Linked DNA regions of Homo sapiens. The protein of the gene in region 2 purifies or fractionates together with the protein of the main gene of each other region. This does not show direct contact. Each region holds a gene or a part of one and is shown on either strand. Other genes may lie near its edges. The genes, in order: DNAJA3, MTMR11, CAD, MTMR2, AIFM1, TUBB6 and MTM1.

Evidence for each region.
Region 1: the proteins of MTMR11 (region 2) and DNAJA3 purify together in Homo sapiens (affinity purification with mass spectrometry; one large-scale study listed by BioGRID and IntAct). This does not show direct contact.
Region 3: the proteins of MTMR11 (region 2) and CAD purify together in Homo sapiens (affinity purification with mass spectrometry; one large-scale study listed by BioGRID and IntAct). This does not show direct contact.
Region 4: the proteins of MTMR11 (region 2) and MTMR2 purify together in Homo sapiens (affinity purification with mass spectrometry; 2 studies listed by BioGRID and IntAct, with this or other methods). This does not show direct contact.
Region 5: the proteins of MTMR11 (region 2) and AIFM1 purify together in Homo sapiens (affinity purification with mass spectrometry; one large-scale study listed by BioGRID and IntAct). This does not show direct contact.
Region 6: the proteins of MTMR11 (region 2) and TUBB6 purify together in Homo sapiens (affinity purification with mass spectrometry; one large-scale study listed by BioGRID and IntAct). This does not show direct contact.
Region 7: the proteins of MTMR11 (region 2) and MTM1 purify together in Homo sapiens (affinity purification with mass spectrometry; 2 studies listed by BioGRID and IntAct, with this or other methods). This does not show direct contact.

What each region holds. Positions count from the first base shown.
Region 1 is NC_000016.10:4,442,868-4,446,367, forward strand, and holds part of DNAJA3 (dnaJ homolog subfamily A member 3, mitochondrial), read left to right. Parts: intron 1-149; coding exon 150-297; intron 298-1,796; coding exon 1,797-1,861; intron 1,862-3,500. UniProt on the Homo sapiens protein: Modulates apoptotic signal transduction or effector structures within the mitochondrial matrix. Affect cytochrome C release from the mitochondria and caspase 3 activation, but not caspase 8 activation.
Region 2 is NC_000001.11:149,934,080-149,938,054, reverse strand, and holds the start of MTMR11 (myotubularin-related protein 11), read left to right. Parts: upstream 1-1,175; 5' UTR 1,176-1,393; coding exon of another isoform or gene 1,394-1,407; coding exon 1,408-1,473; exon of another isoform or gene 1,474-1,825; coding exon 1,826-1,901; intron 1,902-2,349; coding exon 2,350-2,471; intron 2,472-2,695; coding exon 2,696-2,756; intron 2,757-2,926; coding exon 2,927-3,069; intron 3,070-3,528; coding exon 3,529-3,607; intron 3,608-3,728; coding exon 3,729-3,864; intron 3,865-3,975.
Region 3 is NC_000002.12:27,220,369-27,223,868, reverse strand, and holds part of CAD (multifunctional protein CAD), read right to left. Parts: intron 2,652-3,500; coding exon 2,522-2,651; intron 1,676-2,521; coding exon 1,533-1,675; intron 1,351-1,532; coding exon 1,209-1,350; intron 1,004-1,208; coding exon 832-1,003; intron 307-831; coding exon 121-306; intron 1-120. UniProt on the Homo sapiens protein: Multifunctional protein that encodes the first 3 enzymatic activities of the de novo pyrimidine pathway: carbamoylphosphate synthetase (CPSase; EC 6.3.5.5), aspartate transcarbamylase (ATCase; EC 2.1.3.2) and dihydroorotase (DHOase; EC 3.5.2.3).
Region 4 is NC_000011.10:95,858,108-95,861,607, forward strand, and holds part of MTMR2 (phosphatidylinositol-3,5-bisphosphate 3-phosphatase MTMR2), read right to left. Parts: intron 526-3,500; coding exon 424-525; intron 1-423. UniProt on the Homo sapiens protein: Lipid phosphatase that specifically dephosphorylates the D-3 position of phosphatidylinositol 3-phosphate and phosphatidylinositol 3,5-bisphosphate, generating phosphatidylinositol and phosphatidylinositol 5-phosphate.
Region 5 is NC_000023.11:130,163,042-130,167,307, reverse strand, and holds the start of AIFM1 (apoptosis-inducing factor 1, mitochondrial isoform AIF precursor), read left to right. Parts: upstream 1-1,466; 5' UTR 1,467-1,651; coding exon 1,652-1,757; intron 1,758-4,266. UniProt on the Homo sapiens protein: Functions both as NADH oxidoreductase and as regulator of apoptosis.
Region 6 is NC_000018.10:12,321,741-12,325,240, reverse strand, and holds part of TUBB6 (tubulin beta-6 chain), read right to left. Parts: intron 433-3,500; exon of another isoform or gene 175-432; coding exon 1-174. UniProt on the Homo sapiens protein: Tubulin is the major constituent of microtubules, a cylinder consisting of laterally associated linear protofilaments composed of alpha- and beta-tubulin heterodimers.
Region 7 is NC_000023.11:150,567,207-150,571,420, reverse strand, and holds the start of MTM1 (myotubularin), read right to left. Parts: upstream 2,801-4,214; 5' UTR 2,759-2,800; exon of another isoform or gene 2,703-2,758; intron 1-2,702. UniProt on the Homo sapiens protein: Lipid phosphatase which dephosphorylates phosphatidylinositol 3-monophosphate (PI3P) and phosphatidylinositol 3,5-bisphosphate (PI(3,5)P2). Has also been shown to dephosphorylate phosphotyrosine- and phosphoserine-containing peptides.

The DNA.
Region 1 (3,500 bases), on a different chromosome or scaffold from region 2:
GCACCTGGGTTCCTAGGCAGTGTGTTTGAGTGCACATGCACATAAAAAACAAGCCTTAAAGAGACATTTTTCTTACGCACATTGTGGTCCCAGAACCACCCATCAGTTTACCTGCGTACTTAGGTTACCATTTTTCTTGTTTTTATCAGGAAACCATCAACACAGGCCCTTTTGTGATGCGTTCCACGTGTAGGAGATGTGGTGGCCGCGGCTCCATCATCATATCGCCCTGTGTGGTCTGCAGGGGAGCAGGACAAGCCAAGCAGAAAAAGCGAGTGATGATCCCTGTGCCTGCAGGTGGGTGCTTGGGCCCGCCATGTCCAGGAGCTTGGAGAGGGCAGACAGGGTTGAGGCTACCACACCGTGTGGAGAGGGTGGACAGGGCCGAGGCCACTGCACTGAGTGTGAGTGGGCTCTTGGTAGAAGTTATGGTTGAGGCCCTGGAGCCCCAGGCTGGAGGAGGAACTGGAGTCTCCTTGAATCTTTCTGTTTCTGCCAGTTATCCTTAAAATTTACACTTTGCATGTCACAATGGGGAGAAGAGACCTGACGTGCCTACTCTGCTTCTTCCTGGTGAGGGAGCAGCTTCCAACCCCCGGGCTCCTCTCCTCTCTCCCCTGTCTTAGTCACCGAAGCCATCATTGTCCCTGCTGCCACCCTATCTACATCAGCCCCACGGATCCCACCCCTCACTCCATGTCTACTGTTCCCTTGCCCAAAACTCACTTTCTGCTTTCTTTTTTCGGTTAACTTTATTCATCTTGGAGATCCCAGCTTGAGTATCCCTTCCCTAGCTAGCCTCACACCCTCCTCCCTGTTCTTTTTTTTTTCTTTTTTGAGACGGAGTCTCGCTCTGTCACCCAGGCTGGAGCGCAGTGGCCCGATCTCGGCCCACTGCAAGCTCTGCCTCCCAGGCTCATGCCATTCTCCTGCCTCAGCCTCCCAAGGAGCTGGGACTACAGGCACCTGCCACCACACCCAGCTAATTTTTTGTATTTTTAGTAGAGACGGGGTTTCATCGTGTTAGCCAGGATGGTCTCGATCTCCTGACCTCGTGATCCACCCGCCTCGGCTTCCCAAAGTGCTGAGATTATAGTCATGAGCCACCGCGCGTGGCCTGCTTTACTGTTGTTTAGATGTCTGTTTCTCTAGAGTTGTGAGCATTTCCATTGAAGAGCATGTCTCTGTTTGTAGTTATGCATTAGTGCTATCGTTTGGTTAACACCCATCACCCCAGTGAGACCATGAACTCCCTGAGGTACTGCCTAGACCAAGCCTGAGGCAGGTGCTCAGTCATCAGGTGTCTGTGTTGCATCTCTGGAAGGTTACCCATGTGCCTCTTAGATAATGACATTGTTCCTCGTTAATAAGAAACAGGAGTGGGGAAGAAGCTGTGGGTTACAAGTGGATCTTGGGTGGAAAGTGCTGTGGGAGGTCTCACAATAACTGCTCCCTTTCTTTTTTTTCTTTTTCTTTTCTTTTTTTTTTTTTTTTTAAGACGGAGTCTCGCTCTGTTGCCAGGCTGGCGTGTAGTGGAGTGATCTCGGCTCACTGCAACCTCCGCCTCCTGGGTTCAAGCGATTCTCTTTCCTCAGCCTCCTGAGTAGCTGGGACTACAGGCGTGTGCCACCACGCCCAGTTAATTTTTAGTAGAGACCAGGTTTCACCATGTTGGCCAGGATGGTCTCGATCTCTTGACGTCATGATCTGCCCGCCTCGGCCTCCCAAAGTGCTGGGATTACAGGCGTGAGCCACCGCGTCCTGCCTAACTTCTCCCTTTCTAATGTCCCTTGTAGGAGTCGAGGATGGCCAGACCGTGAGGATGCCTGTGGGAAAAAGGGAAATTTTCATTACGTTCAGGGTAGGTGCCCTGCCCCGCACAGCTTCTGTTGGGCCTTTCCTCTCTTCGGGTGGGTGTGGCTGAGGCTGCTCCCATGTAATCAAAGCTTCACAGGAACATGTCTCGCCATTCATGTTTCTGAGGGGCACAGTGGCCACCTAGATGTGGTTTTTAGCTGTTTGTTACCTTCAAGATTCTGTGCCTTGTGTGGAGAGAAGACAACTTCTTCAACATGCTAACAAGTTAGAAATACAGGTCACATAAAAATACAGGAAACATCTTGTGTTTTTATGATAAGATTGTTGATGAGGCAGTGAGTGTGAAAGTTACAATTTTACATACTGTATACAGGGGCAAACCTTGGTTTTCTGAGATGGTGGAAACATTAATGAAGACAATGCCTTCTACTGGCAATTGCCCTCCTATGTGTACACCTGAGAAAAACCCACACAAGCCTAGCAGGCGATAGGTACAAAGGGGTGCACAAGAGTCCTGTCCATGGTAGCAAGACACTGCCTTCCTCCAACAAGAGAATGGCTCAGTGAGCCGTGGTGGTCAGAGGCTGCTGCAGGGCAGTCGGAAGGAAAGAATGAGAGCTGAACTCAAGGGATGCTCCAGGCGTTGCAGGTACAGACAGCAGGGATGGAAGGCAGCTTGCCAGTGGCTGTAGGGCCTCAGAGACCATCTGTGTAAAGTTTTAAAACCTGTGAGATGGCATTATGTATTATTTAGGGACACGGAAATACATAGTAAGTAGAAGCTTGTAGGAATGATAAATGTTAAAGTCAGGGTTGTGGTTAGCTGAGGAGGGCAAGACTCACCGGTGTTTATGATGTTTTATTTTATTTTACTTTATTTTTTGAGGTGGGGTATTGCTTTGTTGCCTAGGATGAAATGCAGTGGGGCAGTCTTGGCTCACTGTAGCCTCAGACTCCCTGGGCTCAGGTGATCCTCCCACCTCAGCCTCCTGAGTAGCTGGGACTACAGGCACACGCCACCAGGCCCGGCTGACTTTTGTATCTTTAGTAAAGATGAGGTTTCACCATGTTGCCCAGGGTGGTCTCAAACCCCAGGGCTCAAATGATCCACCCACCTTGGCCTCCCAAAGTGCTGGGATTACAGGTATGAGCCACTGCGCCCGGCCTGTGATATTTTGTTACCTCCACTGGGTTGTGGGTATGACATGCTTGTTATATTATTTACTCTTCCCTTTTTTTTCTTTTTTTTTTCTGGAAAGAGAGTCTTGCTCTGTTGCCCAGTCTGGAGTGCAGTGGCATGATCTCAGCTCACTGCAACCTCCACCTCCCAGGTTCAAGCGATTCTCTTGCCTCAGCCTCCTGAGTAGCTGGGACTACAGGCATGCGCCACTACACCCAGGTAATTTTTGTATTTTTAGTAGAGATGGGGTTTCACCATGTTGGCAGGCTGGTCTCGAATTCCTGACCTCAGGTGATCCACCCACCTTAGCCTTCCAAAGTGCTGGGATTACAAGCGTGAGCCACCACGGCTGGCCTATACTTTCTAATAAAGTAAGATTTTTTTTTTTTTTTTTTTGAGGTGGAGTCTCGCTCTGTTGCTCAGGCTGGAGTGCAGTGGTGTGATCTCTGTTCAGTGCAAACTTCATCTCCCAGGTTCAAGTGGATCTTCTGCCTCAGCCTCC
Region 2 (3,975 bases):
GGCTTCTGGGCCACCTTCTTAGCAGGTGTATACCTCTTTGTTCCAGACTGACTTTCTGTCTCACAATATCTTCACTATTTCCACAGTTGCAGCCAAGACAGGAAACTGAAAGCTGAGGCCAGAAGGGTGGTGTACTGGGGGGAGGGGAAAATTGAGTGTCACTTTGGAAAACTGGGGCCCCCATCTAAGGATTGCTGCCTCTGTAGATTCAAAAGCAATAAAACAGCAGCTCATTAACTCTTATTTTGTATTTTATTTTCTGTCTTTTTCATGTCTAAATAAAGATTTTTGCTTTGCTGTCCCCAAGTCCCCCTCCTTTAAAGGAGCTGCAGCTCCTTCTCTCCTTGTTCCCAGCTTTCCTTACCCATCTTTGCTTCTAGGGTTGCAGATGGGAGGGACGGGGGATGGACTGCTGAGCTGAAGAGAGGTTTCCAGCCCTCACCTGTGAAAGTCCTGAACATGAATCATTCATTTGGAGATCTGGTGTCTGGGTTGGAGGGGTGGAGTCACATACGGGAATGGGCACTTATTGCCTATTGGTTGTGTATCTACGTGATGGGCAAGATTAACTGGTAAGATCTTTTTGTCCCACCCACATCCCCAAGACTTGCACACAAACTGTACTTGTGTCTGCATCTTGGACACATTTCCATCTCTTTTTATACTTCTCCACTGCAGTCTTCACATGATGTCTGTGTCATGCCCTCTAGAGAAAGATATGCAAAACCACTTTAACCAGTTTCCCTGCTTCCTCACCTAATTCTTGGGCCTCTGCTGACAAAAATCCCCCCAGGTCTAATTTTCATTTTCTTCTGGAAGAGGCGGCAAGGAGGCTTGAACCACTTTCACATTCCTACCCCTCTCCCCGCCCCAAACCCCTTTGAGAAGACAAAAGAACGGAGCTTTTAAGGGAAGTCATCACTGAGACACTCCAGACAGGTAGCCCAGATGATTCCAGCTTCATAATCAATAGAACTGCTCCCCTCAAACGGTCTCCAGTACTCATGAACAGGAAGAGAACAGGGTCTGGGATTGGGGTAAAGAAGGGAGTCGTTTTTCTCTCAGTCCCCATTTCTTCCCCACCCGTCCGTCTCAGACTCCACCGTTTCCTCTCCACTTTTCCAGAATTGTGTGTATTCTCCTTTAAGGGGTTGGGCATCTCTCCCGCCCTCTCCAGAGTCGACTGAAGTTTCCGAGGAGACTTCTCAGGCTGGGCTGGACACACCTTTCCAAGGACCCCCAAACTCTGCTCCGTGCACGTCAAATGCTCCTTTCCCTTGTGTCCAACCCCCTACCCCTCTCCCTAACACCCCTCTTCTCAACAAGACTCAGCCTCTCCCCGAGGTGGGTGAGCATCCTTGAGGTTTCCCACCCTTAACTGCTGTGTCCCCGGATGGAGCCAGAGAAATGTGGTGGGGGGGCCGGGGCCAGAGTTTCAACATTGCCCCCCAGAAGGAGGAGCCAGAGATGGGGGTAAGGAGAAGGAATTTGGGGGGTGTCGGCAAGAGGGTGAGAACGGGGATGAGGTGGAGATAAAAGGGGGAAGCAAAGGCTCTAGAGGAGGAGGAGGAGGGTGTGTCTGTCTATCAGCTTCTGCTGATGGAGCCTGGTCCGTCTTTCTCAGTCTCAAGTTCGTTGTCTCATTATCCATTAACCAGCCCCTCCCTTTACTGTTTACCAGCCCTGTTAGGTCTGGAGCTCCCCACAGACACTGATCTCAGTTTCCCCCGAGAGTGTGAGTGTAGGCCTCTACAGGCAGCTGCCTCTGGGGAGTTGGGGAGCCTAGGGGTTAACTCTAGACCCCCCTCAACCCTCTGGACCAAAGTCTGTCCAGGAAAATAGGATGCCGGAGCCCAGGAGTCGTCAGCCTAGCAGTTGCCTGGCCTCCAGATGCCTCCCAGGTAATAATGCCCTATCACTCTCCAAAGACTTCCAAATTTCATCCTACGCCAATCTTGTTTCATGCCCTCACCAAAGATACCCCTGTGTTCCTCTCGTGGCTCGAAGTACGTCTGCCTGAGGCTCGCTGTCCTCCCTGACAGCCTCTAGAGCTGGCTGAGAGCTGGACCTTGACATTCCTTCTGTTTCCTTGACCCTGTTACCCCTTTTCAAATTTACTTATTCGATACATAGTTAGTGCCTGCTATGTGCCAGGCCTTGTTCTAGGCTCTGTTCTAGTTACAGAAATTAAAAAACATTTATCTTTCCTCATAAGCTTACATTGTAGTGGGCTTTGGGGAGGATTTTAATCTTCCCTATTTAGATCTCCCTTTCTTGGAGGGGTGGGTGTATCCAAGTGTGGGCAACACTGGGAACAGTCATAACAGGGCTTCCCTTCTTCCCCTTTAGGGGAGCAGATCCTAGCATGGGCCCCAGGGGTGAGGAAGGGCCTGGAACCAGAATTGTCTGGAACCCTGATCTGTACCAACTTTAGGGTCACCTTCCAGCCCTGTGGATGGCAGTGGAATCAGGTGAGATGGTTGGGGCCACAGAAATGACAGCTAGTGGGAAATGGGTAGGGGAGTCTAGCAGGATTTAGACAAACATTATGGGTTAAGGGCTGTCTTTTGAATGTATCATTGATAATCAGTGGGAACTCTCTCTAGGGTTGTTGCCCCCTAGAAGGGGTTGGGGCTGCCAGGGTAGGAAAATGAGGGCGATTTCAGATGTCTACCCAGTCACGTGTTTCGTCTAGGACACTCCCTTGAACAGTGAATACGATTTTGCCCTGGTCAACATTGGACGATTAGAGGCTGGTAAGTTGGGGGGGGGTTTGGTGAAGGGGTTCACTGGGGTTGTTGGAACTCCCTCCTCATCCTTCCTCTGTTCTCAGAAAACAGCAGGGATGGAGTGGGATGGGCTGCAAGAGTCCCTTCTGGAGAGACTCTGGTCCATGGTTACACTGTTCTGTACCTCTTGACTTCAGTGAGCGGCTTGTCCCGAGTCCAGCTCCTCCGTCCAGGGTCCCTGCATAAATTTATCCCTGAGGAGATTCTGATTCATGGCCGAGACTTCCGGCTGCTCAGAGTTGGTTTTGAGGCTGGAGGCCTAGAGCCTCAGGCTTTTCAGGTAAGAGGCCCCTAACCTGAGGCTTTCTCCTCACCTCAGAACCTTGGGATCCTCTCCCTGACAATTTCTGAGACTCCTCCAGCCCCTGGGATCCTCTCATCATTCCCCCTGCTTCTCTCAAGGAAAGGCTAAAAGGCTGGGATAAATGATTGCGTGATGAGAGTAAAGAGCCTGCGCTCTAGCCTTACTCTATTAATTACCAGCAGTGTGACTGTGGGCAAGTTTCCTCCTCTGAAAAACCAGGATTCCTCCCAGAATCATCATTCTAGGATTCTGTGGTTCCAGATTTGTTCTCCCGACCCCAGTCCCCATGACCTGAGGAAGCCCCCTTCTCTAGGGACTGTCTTCACTGTTCTTCTTCATTCTTGGCAAAGAGAGTGGAGCAACACATGGGCTCCATTTCCTTCTTTTCACTTACTCAGCCTAAGCCAAAAGGATGGAATGTCCTTTCCTCTGCAGGTGACCATGGCCATTGTCCAAGCCAGAGCTCAGAGCAATCAAGCCCAACAGTATTCGGGGATAACCCTGAGCAAGGCTGGTGAGTGAGAGTGCTTTAGGGTAAGGAAGAGTCTGAAAAAGCAGAGGATGGCTGATGACAAAGAGCTGAGAAGCTGTCTCTGATTTTCTCCTTCCTCCTCTATGTCTCACTCCTGTTCTAGGCCAGGGTTCTGGCTCCAGAAAACCACCAATTCCTCTCATGGAGACAGCGGAAGACTGGGAGACTGAGCGGAAGAAGCAGGCAGCCAGAGGCTGGAGGGTCAGCACGGTCAACGAGAGGTTCGACGTAGCCACCAGGTGATCCCCCAGTGCACCCCAACCCTGCTGCTCTCCCAATCTTCCCTTAGTTCCTTGATCCTCTAAAGCTAGGACTTCCCACAAACTCCAGCCTCCTAGGACACCCACAAA
Region 3 (3,500 bases), on a different chromosome or scaffold from region 2:
ACTGGCAGCCTCGAGGTGGGTAGTGGGACAGGGGACTCGGATCCACTGCCGTGCTTTACTTTTCCATCATCAAGGCCCACAGGGCTTCAAATTTTCACAGACCCAGTCAACCAGGCTCACCTGAAGAAAGGCAAGCTGTTGTGCACAATGCCTTCATTGGAACCATCATTGGCGTTGGTGAAGAGAGGAGCCCAGTCTGCTGGCAGTGAGTCTGTCTCCACAGCAAACCCATGGTTCTGGGATGTCAGAAAGCAGCGCCCAGAGCCCACCAACAAGCAGGGCTGGTTATGGCCTCGGTTCCCATATCTGGAGGTAGAAGCATGCCGAGTCACAGGCCCTGCTCACCCTCTCTTCACTACTGAACCTACCCCAGCTCTCACCGATCTCCTGTTCTCAGTAGCCTCACTCCTGTTTCCTTTTTGTTTTTTTTTTTTTTTTGAGACGGAGTCTCCCTCTGTTTCCCGGGCTGGAGGGCAATGGCACGATCTCCGCTCACTGCAACCTCCACCTCCCAGGTTCAAGCGATTCTCCTGCCTCAGCCTCTGGAGTAGCTGGGATTACAGGCGCACGCCACCATGGCTGGCCAACTTTTGTATTTTTAGTAGAGACAGAGTTTCACCATGTTGGCCAGGCTGGTCTCGAACTCCTGACCTCCAGTGATCCGCCCACCTTGGCCTCCCAAAGTGCTGGGATTACAGGTGGGAGCCACCTCACCTGCAACCCCCCCGCTCCTATTTCAACACGAATAAACACCAACTCTCTTCTCATTCCTGAGACACCCCACCCCTCATGCCACAAGTATGGGCCCCTTCTGCTCCCCACAAGTCCCACCTCATCTTGTAAGTCTTGGCCCCAATGGCTAAGGCCAATAGCTGGTGTCCCAGGCAGATCCCAAAGACAGGTCGGGGATTAGGCTCAGATAAAACACGGCTCAGTGTGGATACGACACTGGGATAGGAGGCAGGGTCACCAGGCCCATTACTTAAGAAGAGACCCTCATACTCTGGAGTGGGCAGAAAAGATGACATCAAAATCAGTATTTCAATTACAGGAGACACACCTGCAGCCCCCCCAGCCCATGAGAGTGTTAAGTCCCAATGTCTATCTTCTTCACTGCAACTCCTACTGACTTTTAGCAATTGGACCAAGGGATAGATCTTCCACCCAAGCTGCTTGTCTGAGGCCCTGAACAGGCCCCAGCTACTCACCTTGGCTGTCTAGTGCATGGTCCCAGGGTACCACAGTGACCTCAGCCCCACGCTGGCAGAGGCATCGGATCTGATTATACTTGAGGCCACAGTCCAAAGCAAGGATCCGAGGGGCACCCCCTGTATTGAATACCCGTGGAGTCTGAGAAATAGACGAATAAAGGGCAACAGTTGGCAGCTGTGCTCAGTGGGTATAAGATATGCCTGCACCAACTCCTACCTTCAAAGCCTCCTTTGATTCTCTCCTGTGTTCACCCCCCAATTGTGGGCAGAATATAACTACTGTGCTAGAGCTTGCAACACTCTCCCACTCTACCTCTGTACCTTAATGGAGACCTCTGGTACCAGGGGGCGGGCATTGGGGTCCAAGAATGGCAGGGATGAAGGTTCTGTTCCATTCTGGACCAGCTTCCCCAGCAGAGACCCCTGTTCCCGCAACTTCTTGGTCAGCTCCCGAGTGTCTACTCCTGTCAAAATAGCACAGTCTTAGGGATCACATTCCTACAACTCAGTCATCTGTGAGGTTAGACTTCCAGAAGCACTTCCATTCCAGAGCCCCAGTCACACACAGCTGTTCTATGTGCATCAAAATCCTGGGCCATTGTGACAGAAGTATACTACCATGAAGTATTCCTGCCAAAAATATCACATCTGAATTGAACAACTCTAAATCTATCCATTTATAGAAAATAATATAAAGGGAAAAAAAGAATACGCTAAGTAACACTACAGGAGTGTAACCAAGTAAGTGCAGACTATGGGATACTAGATACAGGAAAAATGACCTGTTTTCAAATAGGTTACAAGGTCCACAGATTAAGAGACTTATCAACCAAATGCAATGTGTGAACCCTGTTTAGAGCAAGATTCAAATGAACAGAAAAAAAAAAAAAAAAAAAAAAAAAAATTGGGAAATTTTAAACATTGCCTGGACACTTGTATTAGGGAATTATTAATTTTTTTAGTGTATGACGTTATTATGATCATGTTTTTTAAAGATTCCTTTTGCATAGATATTGAACTATTTGTAGATGAAATGATATGATGTCTGAGATTTGCATCAAAATAATCCAGTGGTGGTGATGAAATAAGATTAGCCCTAAGCTGATGATTATGGAAGGTGGGAGTTCCTTCCTGTGTTGGAAATTTTCTTTCTGAGTGATAGTTCAATTCTTTCTCCCAGCCCAACTCCAATCTAAACCTTCCAACTATCACAATCTTAGAGTCAGGTCCCAGCAGATTACAGAAACCTTGATTCTTTCCATCCAGGCATGCTGTGCTCTGCCCAAATATGCCCCTGCTTGCCACCATACCTTGCAAGCCAGGGATGCCATGCTGCTGCAGCCACTCATGCAGGGTGCGGGTGGCACTCCAGTGGCTGGGAGTAGGACAGCACTCTCCCACTACCAGTGCTGCTACGTGGATGCCCGAGGATTCAAACCACTGTAGATGGAAAGAGATTGTGAGAAGCCTCAGGCCAAGTTATTTCTTTGCAGCATTTTCCCGATTGTGTGGCCACAGACCCTATATTCAGCCACATTGAATGGCCTTCAATATACCAAACTTTTGGTGCTTTTGCATAGGTATTTCCATTTACCAACAACGCTCTCTCCTATACGAAACACAACCCACAGGCCCAGGGTGCCCCGATGATCACTGAAAATGACATTTTCCTTTTTATTTATTTATTATTTATTTTTTTTGAGACAGAGTCTCACTCTGTCACCCAGGCTGCAATGCAGTGGCGACATCTAAGCTCACTGCAACCTCTGCCTCCCGGATTCAAGCAATTCTCTTGCTTTAGCCTCCCGAGTAGCTGGGACTACAGGCGCCCGCCACCACACCCGGCTAATTTTTTGTATTTTTAGTAGAGACGGGGTTTCACCATGTTAGCCAGGATGGTCTCAGATCTCCTGACCTTGTGATCTGCCCACCTCAGCCTCCCAAAGTGCTGGGATTACAGGAGTGAGCCATCGCACCTAGCCATTCCTTTTTTTTTTTTTTGAGACAGGGTCTTGCTGTTATCCAGGCTGGAGTGCAGAGTACAGTGGCACAAATACACGGTTCACTACAGCCTCAATCTCCTGGGCTCAAGTGATTCTCCCACCTCAGACTCCTGAGTAGTTGGGACCACAGGTGTGGATCATCACACCTGGCTAATTTTTTGAATTTTTTGTAGTGACAGCGTCTCACCATGTTGCCAGGCTGCTCTCAAACTTCCTGGGCTCAAGCGATCCCCCCACCTCAGCCTTCCAAAGTGCTGGGATTACAAGTCATGAGCTACCGCGCCCC
Region 4 (3,500 bases), on a different chromosome or scaffold from region 2:
AAGTGAAATGATATAAACGTGGGAGTCTAACACTGTCTAAAGCACATAGTGGGAACTCAGGGTTTGCCTACCCTTACCTCCCTCCCAAATTGCTAGTGTTAACTGGCTCCCAATTAAAAAGGAGATTACAAATCCTAATGAAGACAACAGGTAACTTTTCATCATGGAAACACCCTGAATAGCAAGATCATATAATCATAAAATGTTAGTGCTGGAATGGACCTCAGAAATCAGCTAGTCCAGCTTCCTTTATTTCATACCTAAAGAAATTGATCTAAGAGACTAAGTTACACTTACACTATACATCTGGTTAAATGTCAAAGCAGGGATGTAAATGTAGAGATTCTAGACAGCCTAGACAAGTTTCTTTATACGACATCAATAATTATAGCACAAATTTTCCAAAGACAGGAAACATTTTACCAGGTTATTAGAGACAGGAAATGCATATTTCATTAGATTCTCAAATATGGATCTTCTTGTCCGCCCCTCAGGTTTATGAGCAAATCGTAAATTCCTAATATCCTAGAAAAGATTTAGGAACCAAGTTAATAATTGTTCACTACTTACTTAAATGAATAAATAAGGTTACTTGGAACTATCTTGTAAAATGTTAAGATCTGTGAATGTGGGATACAAAAATAAATCAGACATCAGCTCCTGGAGACAGGGAAATTATAATGGTTTATTGGGAAAAACTGAAAGAAACACAAGGTACTCTACTATGAAGCAGAATTCAGAGGGCAGGAAATTTACCTATGCTTATGGACTCAAAATAGGCCAGTGAAAGAGGTAGTATTTGATGTAACCACTGGAGATTAACGATATTACATCTGAAGATTAATATCATGACTGATACAAACTATCAGCATATGTGCTTTCCCTGTGAAAGCCCATTTTCTGTCATAAATTTCTTTATTTATAAAACCTGATTAGTAGTTGTTACATTTCATACGTGTCTTCAGTTCATTATATCTGGTGATTATTTTCCTACTAACTATCCCTTCCCAGGGTTCATTTGCATTGGACCTTCTCTTCCTAAGTCCCCTGCTACTAGTAGACTTGATAGAACTAAACCCTGCCTGAAAGTGTTCCTTCCTTCACTCCATAACCACATTCTTCCACCATCTACTGACACATAACTCTGAATAGTTTAGTTTATATTATCCAGGCTCTACAGTAAGGTCTAAAGACCAAGTTTCCCTTCCATTTGTCCCTAAGCAGTTTTCTATGCTCAGACTGAATGCAGTTATTCATGTTCCGGTTTACTGGTATCTTAACAGCACTTAGAAAAAAACTGGGGATTAAGATAATTTCAAGGGCCAGGCACAGTGGCTCATGCCTGTTATTCCAACACTTTGGGTGGACAAAGCAAGAGGGACACTTGAGGTGTTCTACTTCTAAAACAGTGGTGGGGAAAAATTGGTATTGTAGACTTTTCCTATGTTCTTATCTACCGACATTCTTTAAATGCATTGATTGATACTTGAATGAAACATGAATTGTTACAAGTTCAAGGCCAGCCTGGGCAACATAGTGAGACCTTGTCTCTACAAAAAATTTTTTAAAAAAAATTTATAAGAAAAGAATAATTTTAAGACTGATCATTTTATTTAAATGTTTTTACCTAGGCAGAATTCAAAATAGCTTTATTATGCCTCATTTTGTAGAACCACACACAAAGCCTCTCCACTACAGTGTACCCACAATACATAAGTAAGACAGTATATGATCCAAAACTAGAATGCTGGCTTTACTATCTTTTAAAATAAACATGTGCGGGAACCTAAGCTGATATCTTGTTTTCCCTCAGTAAATATCTTTATAACTAGGTGAGATACTCAGAATCATTCTGTTAACCACAGAGTTCTCTGAAAGTACCATGTCAGGGGCCCTACAAATATTTTTGTTTATTGATAACGATCCTGTTCCATGGAAAGAAATTATATTTAAAATGATTAAGATTCAAAATTATCTTCTTTCACATCGTCTTATATTCTATGCACTACTTACTCTTAAACTACAGAAAAGTGATCAGGAAACAGTGTGCTTGACACATGGTTGCCAGCGATTACACTCACAGAGCCCTTCTGACTATAATGGAAAACCACAGGCCAGGCACAGTGGCTCACACCTGTAATCTCAACACTTTGGGAGGCCAAGGCGGGCAGATCACTTGAGGCCAGGAGTTCAACACCAACCTGGCCAATGTGGTGAAACCCATCTCTACCAAAAATACAAAAATTAGCCAGGCATGGTGGCATATGCCTGTAATCCCAGCTACTGAGGAGGCTGAGGTAGGAGAATCACTTGAACCCGGGAGGCAGAGGCTGCAGTAAGCCAAGATCACGCCACTGCACTCCAGCCTAAGCAACAGAGCCAGACTCTTGTCTCAAAAAAAAAGAAAACTACAAAAATAATTACTAAGTCATTAGCTTTAATACCAGAGTCACAAAACTTCTAAGATTAGCATAACAAAGTATCTTGAATTATACACATGCTGTTTCTTTTGGCACTGGCAGAATAAAAAGAAAGGAACAATGTGATGTAGAATCTCAATGTGCATGGGTGTTAGTTAATTAGGCCTTAATAACAGTGACCTGGAGAAGTGGTACGTAGAATTAAATACCTATGACTTAATGGTAAAAATGTAACAATCTATGTTTCATTCAAGTATCAACGCATTTAAAGAATGCCAGTAAATAAGAACATAAGAAAAGTCTACAATATCAACTTTTCCACACTATTGTTTTAGAAGTAGAAAAACTGGCCGGGCACGGTGGCTCACGCCTGTAATCCCAGCACTTTGAGAGGCCGAGATGGGCAGATCACGAGGTCAGGAGATTGGGACCATCCTGGCTAACATGGTGAAACCCCATCTCTACTAAAAATACAAAAAAAAATTAGCTGGGCGTGGTGGTGGGCGCCTGTAGTCCCAGCTACTCGAGAGGCTGAGGCAGGAGAATCCCGTGAACCCAGGAGACGGAGCTTGCAGTGAGCTGAGATTGTGCCAGCCTGGGCAACAGAGCGAGACTCCGTCTCAAAAAAAAAAAAAAAGAAAAATTATGAGAACTAGAAACAGAAAAGATAGGTGATGATGAATATAACATATTTAGTTATTTAGTTCTTCCACTACGAAGTAGTGGAACTGCTCAGAGCCTTATGTTGCTAATTTGTAAATTAAAGGTAGTAATGTCTATTGTGCCTACCTCACAGGATTTTTATAAGGCTCAAAGTGAAATCATCAATGTGGAACTATGTGGTATCCTATCAGTACTATGTGCATTAAAGATGGTTATTATTATTATTATTATTATTATTATTATTATTATTTCAGACAGAGTCTTACTCTGTTGCCCAAGCTGGAGTGCAGTGGCACTATCTTGGCTCACTGCAACATCCGCCTCCCAGGTTCAAGCAATTCTCCTGCCTCAGCCTCCCCAATAGCTGAGATTACAGGTGCCCGCCACCACGCCTGGTTAATTTTTGTATTTTTAGTA
Region 5 (4,266 bases), on a different chromosome or scaffold from region 2:
GAACACCCTCCTGAGATTTGTAGATGAGGAAAATGAGGCACAATTAAGTGACTTGCCCAGGTGGCAGAGCCAGGATTCAATGTGGGTTGGTCTGGATCCAAGGTCAACATGTTTAACAATGAAAAATGTTATCTTTGGTCCGAAAGTATTCACCATCTGAAATATCAATCCTTTTCCTCTACTGTTTGAATTTTACTACTCATCCTTCAAGACACAACTCAAATAACTTCTTACACGAAGTTCTACCATAGTGATTCCATCCCATAGTCTTCTCTCTTGCTCTGTCCGGCACTACACCAGATATTATTTCAATGACCGGTATATGTCATCTCCCCAACTAGACAGTGGCCACTTCCTATATAGATGCTATGTCCAAATAAACCCATTGTAAACTGAAAATATCGTTAAGTCGAAACTGCATTTAATACCCTGATAAACCCATCATAAAGTCAAAAAACCGTAAGTTGAACCATGCTTAAGTCCAGATGCTCCTCGACTGACATGGGGTTAGGTCTCATTAAACCCATCATAAAGTCGAAAAATTGTAAGTCGAACCATTGTGAGGGGTAAGTCGGGGACCATCCGTACTTTTCATACCCAACAGAGCCCCTTTTATAGTACAATCCAAGAGGTAAGTGCTCAATAAATACTTGTTAAATGAATATGTAAGCTGAATCTTTGAAACAGGCACATTGTATGTTCTGCATGCAGCCAAAACATTATTTCCAATTTAGCTTATATCTGGCAGAGTCAAAACACTTATTTACACTCAGCCCCTCACCCTACTCCCATAACTGAAAGTTCTGCTTAGCAGACTTCTCTTCCCAGAAAGTCCGAGAAGCACGAACGCTTTTTGCTAACATCCTGCTCCCAAGCACAGAAACCACAGCAGGAGACTGTGTGTATCTGTAGCACCTGGTATACAGCATCTAGGACACACAACTGAACTAATAAATAAAGGTGACAGGCGGGAAGAAGAGCGCAGAATTACTTGTCCAGGAAACGGGTTGGGTGGGAAAGAGCCGGCAACTGGTAAAAGATGGAAGTACACGCCGGATCTGGGAAGCCAGGTTCCGCGCCTCGGACTCATGGAAAAACTGGATCTGGATCACTGCAAAAGAATCAGGAAGGCTTCGGTATCAAGTAACTGGTGTCCTAAAACCAAAAAACAAAGTGCGATGCCGGGGCTACGCTGTTGTGAGATGCTGTTATCAGTTCTCGTCACCAACACAGCGGCAGCACCAGGCACAACCGCCAATCAAAGCGGCCCCACGAGTCCCTCCTTGAACAGGTTCCTTAACTCGTTCAGTCCAACACTGTGCCACAAACTCGCGAAAACCGGCTACCTAGAGCCAGCGTCTTTGCGAGCTTGCGGCCAGCTAGTGCATGCGCAAATCCTCTCGCCGTGCGGACCAATCGCAATGCGGCAGCGAGTGCTACGCCTGCGCAGTAGGCCTCCGGTCGCCGTTCCCCTTCCCCGGCTCTAGCAGGCCGGCTTCTCTGTCCAATGCCCACCCGGAGCTGGGAGGAGGAGTCTGCGTAATGTGCGTGTGAAGAGACTGGGGGAGCTGGCCGGGGCTCACGGTGTTTGACCCGTCGGTCGTGCGTGAGAGGAAAGGGAAGGAGGAGGTCCCGAATAGCGGTCGCCGAAATGTTCCGGTGTGGAGGCCTGGCGGCGGGTGCTTTGAAGCAGAAGCTGGTGCCCTTGGTGCGGACCGTGTGCGTCCGAAGCCCGAGGCAGAGGAACCGGCTCCCAGGTGACTGACCCATTCCAGGCAACCTCCAAGTCCGAGGGCCTGGCGCCTTAGGCTCCCTGTGCCTTGCAGCCCTCTACCCCCGCGTCCCCGCGAGAAACTTAACACATAGTCACGTGAATTCCAAATTGGCAGACTCCGAACCCTGAGTCTTGCAAGCGGAGGAATTGGCTCAGCCATGCCGACCTGACCTTCAAGAGATTTGAACCCAGTAGTCGGCTTGAGGCCTTTTCCCGGGAGCGTTTGCTGTTCAGGGATCCCAGAACAACTGGCTGTCGGCGCCTCCCCGGCATCCCCACCCCCCACCCCCCTTTTTAGAGCAATGAGGTCAAGTAGACTTTGTCATTTACCGATTGAGACTTTAAACAGGACGTTTAAGCCCTACGCCTAAGTTTCTTGTGTAAATGAGGGTGTTATCTGCTCAGCCTTCCAAACCACAGATGAGATCCATGGATTTGAATGCCCAGTGAAACAGAAACGGTGCAGGGCAAGTAAGGAGTCGGTTGGTTGTGTACCAGACACCCAGAGAATTGGCCCAGACTTAATTGGAGATGCCTGAGCCGTGTACTTCTTGGTGGTCTTTAAGGCTTCAAAGAAACAGTTTGCAGAACGCATTGTATTTTGTTCTCCATTAAGTTGTTTCATCAAATTTTAGAGCTGGAAGGGATTTTGTGGTAAAGGTCAACCCACTCATTTTATAGATAATAAACTGAGGCACAGAGAGGTGAAATTACTTGCCAAAGGTCACATAGTTAATTAATAGGTAGAGCTAAGGATAGTTTGCTAGCCTCCAGGTCCTTAATCCCTTCGCTGCAACTCCATACTGCTTCCTAAAGTTGACCTCAAAAAGTTAAGAATGAATTCGGGTCTCTTCCCAGTAATTAGCCCATTGTACATCAGATATCCGTGAATTTATCTGAGCATGGCTTGAGCCTGCTTCTTTTCGTACTGCGTTACTTCATGGGGGCAATGAATGATCCACCTGTAGGAGTTGCTTTGAAAAAAAAATCAGTAATCCTTCAATGTCCACCCCTAGGGCATTTGCAATGTCAGAAGTTATCCTTGAGGCTTTTACAATACAGAAACACCTGGGTGCTTTAAAAATAAAAAGTGGAAAATATTTTCCTTGGGTTGTTAGGGTCTTTGCAAATGTGCATTTGAACAGTTTTTCCAGTTGCTATGCACAATGAAAATGTTTCCTGATAGGTGTATTTGAGTTATGTCCTGGGACATACTGCTCTTGGAACTTAAAACCTCTGCTTAGCTTTTAAACTAATGCCTTATCAATGGATGTCATCTTTGAGGGTTTTGTGTATTGAAATGATGGTGCTCTGTGCTTGTTGCACAGAAATTGAGATAACCTGAATTTTTTTTTTTTTTTTTTTTGAGACGGAGTCTCGCTTTGTCGCCCAGGCTGGAGTGCAGTGGCGCGATCTCGGCTCACTGCAATCTCCGCCTCCCGGATTCACGCCATTCTTCTGCCTCAGCCTCCAGAGTAGCTGGGACTACAGGCACCCGCCACCACGCCCGGCTAATTTTTTTTTTTTTTTTTTTGTATTTTTAGTAGAGACAAGGTTTCACCATGTTAACCAGGATGGTCTCGATCTCCTGACCTCGTGATCCGCCCACCTCGGCCTCCCAAAGCGCTGGGATTACAGGCGTGAGCCACCGCGCCCGGCGATAACCTGAATTTTTTCATCCACACTGGCCTTTCAAACTTTGAGTAGTTGTTTTGCTTAAGTCTCACAACTTTTACCAGCATTCTAAAGTCTGACCAAAAGTTCTCATCAATTAAATATGCATTTGCAAAGTTAAGTTGATTTATTAGACATTGGAAAGTGGTTGGTGTTGTTAGAACTACTGAAAAATACAGACTCAAATGGTTTTTTCCACTGCATGTCTTTGTTTGAAGGCAGTCTACTGTAGAATATATTCGGACTTCCTGACATATCCATCCATCTCTTTGCATACACTTGTTCTTTGTCCTTTGGCCGTGCACCAAAGTATGACATCATCTGCCTTTAAAAATGGGTGAGGGTAGTGTTAAATTTTCAAAAAGAAGTTCTGATACTCTCATTTTAGGAATTAACTCTGTTTTGTGGCTTGATTCCTAACTGCTTTTAATCTGATTTCTTTTTCATGTAGTAGCATCTACCGTGTGTTTTTGCACAGGTGGGAAAGAGCAAGGTTCGTTTATACACCATTTCTCCCTCCACCTTACCTTTAAACTTTTTTTTTTTTTTTTTTTTGAGGCGGAGTCTCGCTCAGTTTCCCAGAGTGCAGTGGCACGATCTTGGCTCACTGCAACCTCTGCCTGCTGGGTTCAAGCAATTCTCCTGCGTCAGCCTCCCAAGTAGCTGGGACTACAGGCATGCACCACCACGCCGGGCTAATTTTTTGTATTTTTAGTAGAGACGGGGTTTCACCATGCTGGCCAGGCTGGTCTCAAACTCCTGACCTTGTGATCCACCTGCTTCAGCCTCCCAAACCTTTAAACTTTAAACCTGCCTTG
Region 6 (3,500 bases), on a different chromosome or scaffold from region 2:
GCAGCGTGCCCATGCCTGAGCCCGTGCCGCCGCCCAGCGAGTGCGTGAGCTGGAAGCCCTGCAGGCAGTCGCAGTGCTCGCACTCCTTCCGCACCACGTCCAGCACTGCGTCCACCAGCTCCGCGCCCTCCGTGTAGTGCCCTTTCGCCCAGTTGTTCCCTGCACCCGTCTGGCCTGCAACAAAGAGAGTCCCGTGCCGTTTAAACAGGAAAGGGCTGCGCCATCACCATGCTTGGTCACCGACAAGGAGGGTGTGAAGTGATTCCATGATGTGCTGTTAGCCAAAGGGAGGGGCCGGGGAAACAGGCACCCACCAACGGTGCAGCTGAGCAGATGCACTGGTACGTTTTTAGGCAAGTCAAAGTAGCTACTGGTCAATTTTAAAGATGTATATACATTTTGACCTGGTTGTTCCATGTTAAAGAGGTAATTCTTGCACATGGTAGAATTCAAAGGGAACAAAAGGTATACATTAAAAAAATAAGTTACTGGCCGGGCGCCGTGGCTCATGCCTGTAATCCCAGCACTTTGGGAGGCCGAGGCGGGTGGATCACTTGAAGTCAGGAGTTAGAGACCAGCCTGGGCAACATGAGGAAACCCCATCTCTACTGAAAATACAAAAATCAGCCGGGCGTGGTGGTGGGGAGCCTGTAGTCCCAGCTACTTGGGAGGCTGAGGCAGGAGAATTGCTTGAACCTGGGACCTGGGAGGTGGAGGTTCTAGTGTGCTGAGATGGTGCCACTGCACTCCAGCTTGGGCGTCAGAATGGGACTACAGCTCAAAAAAAAAAAAAAAGTTCTCTCCTTTGGGCTTTCTGAATCTTATACTGTACTATGTATAAGTATTTTCTTTTCTTTCTTTCTTTTTTTTGGAGACGCAGTCTCACTCTGTCGCCCAGGCTGGAGTGCAGTGGCGCAATCTCGGCTCATTGCAAGCTCCGCCTCCTGGGTTCACGCCATTCTCCTGCCTCAGCCTCCCGTGTAGCCGGGACTACAGGCGCCTGCCACCACTCCTGGCTAATATTTTTGTATTTTTAGTAGAGACGGGGTTTCACCGTGTTAGCCAGGATAGTCTCGAACTCCTGACCTTGTGATCCGCCCGCCTCGGCCTCCCAAAGTGCTGGGATTACAGGCGTGAGCCACGGCGCCCGGCCCAAGTATTTTATTTTTAAAACTTGACACTTTTTCATGTTAATGGAGCCCCTCATTCATCATCCAGAATTACTGTTGCAAAATGTTTGCAGAACCAATTATTTATTCTGCCCCTATAATTAAATACTAAGCACAGGAAGTAATTCCTGCCCTCAAATTGTTTCCAGGCCAGTTGAGAAAAGGAGCTTAATATGTCTGAAAGACTTCTGTATTTTATGCAGAGTTCAAGTAACAAGAAAGAGACCTAGTCTGTTTTCTGCATAATGGTGCTTTTTTTTTTTGAGACGGAGTCTTGCTCTGCCACCCAGGCTGGAGGTGCAGTGGTGCGATCTCGGCTCACTGCAAGCTCCGCCTCCCGGGTTCACACCATTCTCCTGCCTCAGCCTCCCAAGTAGCTGTGACTACAGGCACCCACCACCACGCCTGGCTAATTTTTTGTATTTTTTAGTAGAGATGGGGTTTCACCATGTTAGCCAGGATGGTCTCAATCTCCTGACTTCGTGATCCACCCACTTCGGCCTCCCAAAGTGCTGGGATTACAGGTGTGAGCCACCGGGCCAGCCCCATAATGGTGCATTTTTGCCAGACAGGCTTATGTATATCTTACTTTACCTAAAAAAAATTGAATCTGAAAGATTGGCTCTTAAATTTAAAATCCTATTTTTCATTTTATCTCATTTTAAAATGGATTATTTCACTAGCAGAAGCATTTTTTTCCCAGCTGTAAAAATTACACAGGTTTGTATGTCCATATGAACAGATGCACGTAGGAGTGGGAGGAACTAATTTTTGTTTTTGGTTTTCTGGGCACTACGAGTTTCATATAATGCAATGGCTTTCATACATTGCTGTGAACATCTGTATTTATTTATTTAGAGACAAGGTCTCGCTCTGTCACCCAGGGTGGCGTACACTGGCACCACCCTAGCTGACTGCAGCTTTGAACTCCTGGGCTTAAGTGATTCTCCCACTTCAACCTCTTGAGTAGCAGGGACTACAGGCACATGCCACTACACTTGGCTAATGAACATTTGAAAAAACTAGATACTAGATACCTCTCATTTATTTTAAAGTTAACATCTATTATTTTTCATAAGTCAAATAGTTGCATATGATATAATTTTAATTTCTGGAAACAATATAATCACTTTAAAAAACTCTTCTTCTGTTAAATGTATTGATAGAATATATTAAAAATCAGAAATAATTCCAATCAGTTGAAGTTGATTCTTTTTAATTTCCTGTGATTACAAAGTATTAAATGTTATCTATCTACCTATCTATATCTATTTTTTTCCTATTAATTCATTTATCCAAGGGTGAATATTAAATACTGCCAGAAAGGGCCAAGGCTTGGGATCAATTCTATTCCTCTTAATTTTTACATATATGAGAAATCTTGTCCACAGATATATGTAAATGGGAATGAATTATGTTCTACAATGTCATTCAGTTCTTTGATTGTCTTCAGAGTTACATCCCAAAAATCAAATAGTGAGCTATTATCAAAAAGTATTTTCAAGCCTGGGCAACATGGCAAAACCCCATCTCTACTAAAAATACAAAAATTAGCTGGGTCTGGTAGTGCATGCCTGTAGTCCCAGCTACTCGGGAGGCTGAGGTGGGAGGATCACTTAAGCGTAGAAGATGGAGGTTGCAGTGAGCCAAGATTGTGCTACAGCACTCCAGCCTGGGTGACAGAGCAAGACCCTGTCTCAAAAAAAAAAAAAAAAGTATTTTCAATCATCTGTCACTTAACTCAATTTTGTTTATTTATTTATTTATTTATTTTGAGATGGAGTCTCACTCTGTTGCCCAGGCTAAAGTGCAGTGGCACGGTATTGTCTCACTGCAACCTCCACCTCCTGGGTTCAAGCAATTCTGCTTCAGCCCCCCGAGAAGCTGGGATTACAGGTGCTGCCACCACACCCGGCTAATTTTTGTATTTTTTAGTAGAGAGAGGGTTTCACCACGTTGGCCAGGCTGGTCTTGAACTCCTGACCTCAAGTGATCCGCCCACCTCGGCCTCCCAAAGTGCTGGGATTACAGGCATGAGCCACCGCACCTGGCCAACAACTCAATGTTGAAGAAAGCAGAATTGGAAACGACCTAACTTGCAGGTCATGACATTTTACATCAGTCATTCTTTTCTTGTTTCTGAATGTAAACCAAAAAGGCTTAACCAAGACTTACTAAATACACTCTCACTCTTTCACTTTAAGGCAATTTATTCCAGTATACTTAGAGTTGGGAAAATTGAAATACTAATTTCTAATATGACTTTGTCAATTTAATTTTTAATAAAATGTTTTAAATATTTATTTTCATGAAATTTTGGGCTGCAGATTT
Region 7 (4,214 bases), on a different chromosome or scaffold from region 2:
TAAAGTCACACAGATAATATTAGGTCCAGGATTCAAATTGGGGCAGGCTGCCCAATCCAGAGTCAAAATCTTCTAGGCAAATGACGGTCCCTATCCCCCACATCTGCCAAAAAGGAAATAAAGAACTAGAAAACTAGAAAATAATGAAAGCAGAACTTCAAAGAGGTCGAAAACAGGAAAGGAAAATTACTAAAGAATAATGAAAACAATCTATTATTCTGTTACAAAATCGAATAAACTTTAGAAATGAGAAACTCCAGCCTTTGAAATCCTCTGGTTACCCCTTTAAAATGTCACCTATTAATCGTTGAGAGTCTCCACTTTTCTCTTTATTTTGGAGCCCTCAATAAGAGCAAGAACCATGTGTTTTCAGTGGTTTCTAAGTAACTACATTTTGTTAATCTGCCTCTCATTTTGGAACAAAAAATATTAAAGTATTTTTTGTAACTTTAATTATTTTTCAGACCTGTAAAAGTTTAAAATTTTGCTTTGAAGCCATTGAACATACAGAATATGAGAGAACTTAGAAGGTATTAAACAGATGAACTTTTACAGTCAACTCTCATTAATGCCATTTTATTAGCGAGCACTCTTGTTCCTAAGAATGAGTGCTTCTTTTCTCTTGAGCTATTTCAAAATGAACTAGTTTCTTTACAAACCACACAAGGACTGATGATCATTTCAGATAAGAGGTTCACAGTACAAACCATTGCACAGGAAGAGAAACCCTTGTGCAAGGTAGCCTGAGAGTCCAGCAGACACCGGCATGAAATCAACAACCAATATTGACCTCAGCAGAGCTTTCTGTAGCTACAGTCAGCTATCTAACTATGAAAACAGCAAAGGATTTGAAAAATACCTCTCTAGGTATTTGAAATCACTTACTGTTTGCATGTCGGGGTGGGGGGAAATGTGAGTAAAAATGAGGCTGGGATGAGCTTACCATCTAAAAGACACTCATTGGAGAAATGATGACTCCAAAAAATCTCTTTGATTCAGAGATTTACTTTTGGATTTATTTCCTTTACTGGAGCAGCAGCTGGCAATCTAAAACTAGAAATTCAAAGTAATGCCCAAGTCATTCTCAATCATGCCAGCCTGTTTCACTGTCATTGTAAGGTTTCAGAGCTCTATTTTTTCTCATAGCGCTCATCTCTGCCAGAAAATATATCATTGTTTATTTTTTTATTGTGTGCCTCCCCACATATAAACTCTATAAGGCAGGGACCTCAGCAGTGGGGCTCTTTGCTGTCTTCCCAGTGCCCACCGTTGGCATTCTTGTGTTTGATGAATGAATGAAACCATCGACAACTTAATAAATGTAGTTAGAACTTTAAGTTAAAGAGACCAATCATTTACTAACTACACTAGAATCTACAAGCCCCCCGTGAATGTTATCCACCCTCAAGCACCCGGGAGGGTACTATACACTGGTGCTGCAGGCAGCACCACTGGTTCAAATCTCCCCCATGGTGTGGAATCTCTGAAAAGTAGATTTGATTTTGTGAAGCAGCCAAAAGCCATTCAGAATCAAATCTGGTGAATACATGATCGTGCCCAATATATATGTTGGATGAAGGCAAACGTGTCTGCAAAGTAACAGGCCTGATTGTCTTATTTGGTTGGTAAACCGATTTTGAAGGAAATTCAAAATGGTTTGCAGTCTAGCAAAATTGCTGGCTCAGTCTCAAGACTCTAAGGTGCTTATTTCACAAGGAATAATACTGAGCTGTGGTAAAAAGAATCCAGACTAGACAGACACCAAGATACCCCCAAAGAGCTGGCTTGTGATATTAGCTTTGCCATTAAGTTGCCCTGAAGCCCGGGACATATTAGTTACCCTCTCTGGGCCTCAGTTCCCCCATCCAGGAAACAAATGAACAATGTAAACTTCAGGATGCCAGTCAATTCTAAAATGCTATAATTTTATTCTTGTGAAGATCTGGTGTATCTGTTTCAAAACCAGTCGCAACCCACTTCGCCTCAAACGATGCGTGCGTCTATAAAGCTCTAATATAATTTTTGCAGCAGATTCACTTCTTACTTGCTTAGGCAAATACTAAAATTAGTTTTCACTTCCTGAGCGCAGCAAAAGACAGTTAAGGGAGGCAACCCGGCCACGGGCGCTTGCTCGTGCCTGTACATACTTCCGACTGCGTATCAGGGAACTAACCGTTCCCTCTAAGATCTTCCCTCAACTGTTGCAAAAGCAGATAAACCTCTCGTGTATGACACAGAAACACTGGCCGAGAGCGGCCATCGAGGCTTCGCGGCCAGTGCCGGGCTGCGGCCGCTCCGCAGGGCCCACCGGGGATGCGACGGACGCCCGCTCCGTGCGGAGGGCCAAGGCGAGGACCAGCCGCGGAGCGTCGCCGGGGAGGCAGGGCGGACGCCCGGCCCACTCACCGCCCCGGGACGGGGAAGCAAAGTCCAGGCAGTGGCTGAGACGTCCGCCCCCAGCTCCACGGCCAGCCAACCCCTACCCCCGTCCCGACCTTCGCCCGCCGCCGGCCGGCCACCTTGGGCGGGGAGAACGGGAGGAAGCCGGAGGTACCTGCCTGCTGCTCCCTGGCCTCAGCCCTGCCCCGCGGGGACAGCGACGGCGCTTGGACGAAACCCCCACCCAACCCTGACGGTGCGGCAAGGCCCCGCGCGACCCGCTGGCCCAAGGAGTCCCAACTTCCTCCTCCCGATCCCCTCACCACGGGTCCCCGCAGTGCCCGGCTCCGAGCCAGGCCAGCCGTGAGCGCGCACCCACCTCGGGCTCCGGGCGCCACCGCCGTTGCCAGGCTGCTCGGCTGCCGGGCCCTGCTCCGCCCCCTCTGGGGTCCGCCCCCCACGGCCTGCCCGCCCCCGGCCACCGCCCGCTGCCCGCCTCCCCGTGCCGGTTGGCGGGACTGCATCACGTGACGGGGCAGGGGGCAGGAAGAGTGCGCCGGGTCGACCTGGGGAGCAGCTCCGAAGGGCGGGGCTCTTCGCCCGAGAGGCTGCTGGGAAGCCCATTTTGAAGGGTCCGACGCATGGAGGCAGCTGGGAATTGTAGTTCGCAATATGGTGCTGGGGATGGGCGGGGCCAAGATGCCAGGGGCCATCCCTGTAAGGGAAGTTGGACTGGGCGCCGGGCGGAGGCGGCTGGGAAGCGTAGTCCCGGGACCCTTGTCTGGGTCTCCCCATTTTTCTTCAGTAAAGGGGAAATCCAGAGGGAAAACTTCTCTATACAAGACTTTAGCGGATGCCACTAAATTGAGCTATTATTGGGTACACAGGGTTGGCTGCGTAAAGTTGAGATAGTATAAGGGAAAAAGAAATTTCACTGACTCTGGGGCAGGATCTGCAATTCACAAACTCAACTAACAGCTGGGGTGTCCCTCAGCTGTGCCAGCACCTTTCCAAGAACGCAATTGAGACTTAGTGAACGGAAACATTTCAGTCCAAAATTCCTTCTACTTGTTGAGGTTTGGGTCAGACAACTATTGATACAGTAAAAAGAAAGGGACAGGAAAAAGAGAAGAAAGGCAAACTTCAAGAAGAGAATTCATTGTGTAATCAAATAAAACAAACAATCTGGGCCGGGCGCGGTGGCTCACGCCTGTAATCCTAGCACTTTGGGAGGCCAACGCAGGCGGATCACCTGAGGTCAGGAGTTCGAGACCAGCCTGGACGACATGGTGAAACCTCGTCTCTACTAAAAATACAAAAATTATCCAGGCGTGGTGGCAGGTGTCTGTAATACCAGCTGCTCGGGAAGCTGAGGCAAGAGAATCGCTTGAACCCGGGAGGGAGAGGTTGCAGTGAGCTGAGATGGCACCACTGCACTCCAGCCTGTGTGACAAAGCGAGACTGCGTGTCAAAAAAATTAAAAAAAGAAAAGACAACCTGGCACATAGAAAAATGAGCATAATATTCTTTGTACTGCATAATACTTATACGCGAGCAGTTCGAGTAAATAGGATGACTTTATCATGACCTGTTTTTTTTCTCTTGTATGTGTTAGTTCTCCAGCATCTAAAAACAGCATTTTACCTGATACCAGTGTATATGTGTACGTGTGTTTCTACATAGTCACACACATATACACATATATTCATATATCATTTATATATGCATATATATATGCTTTATTGAAGAGTCTAGACTTCTTAGAAGAGTAACAAAGCCATCCAGAATCCAACCCAACCCACTCTTTAGCCACTTCTCCCAGTGTGCCTCTTTTT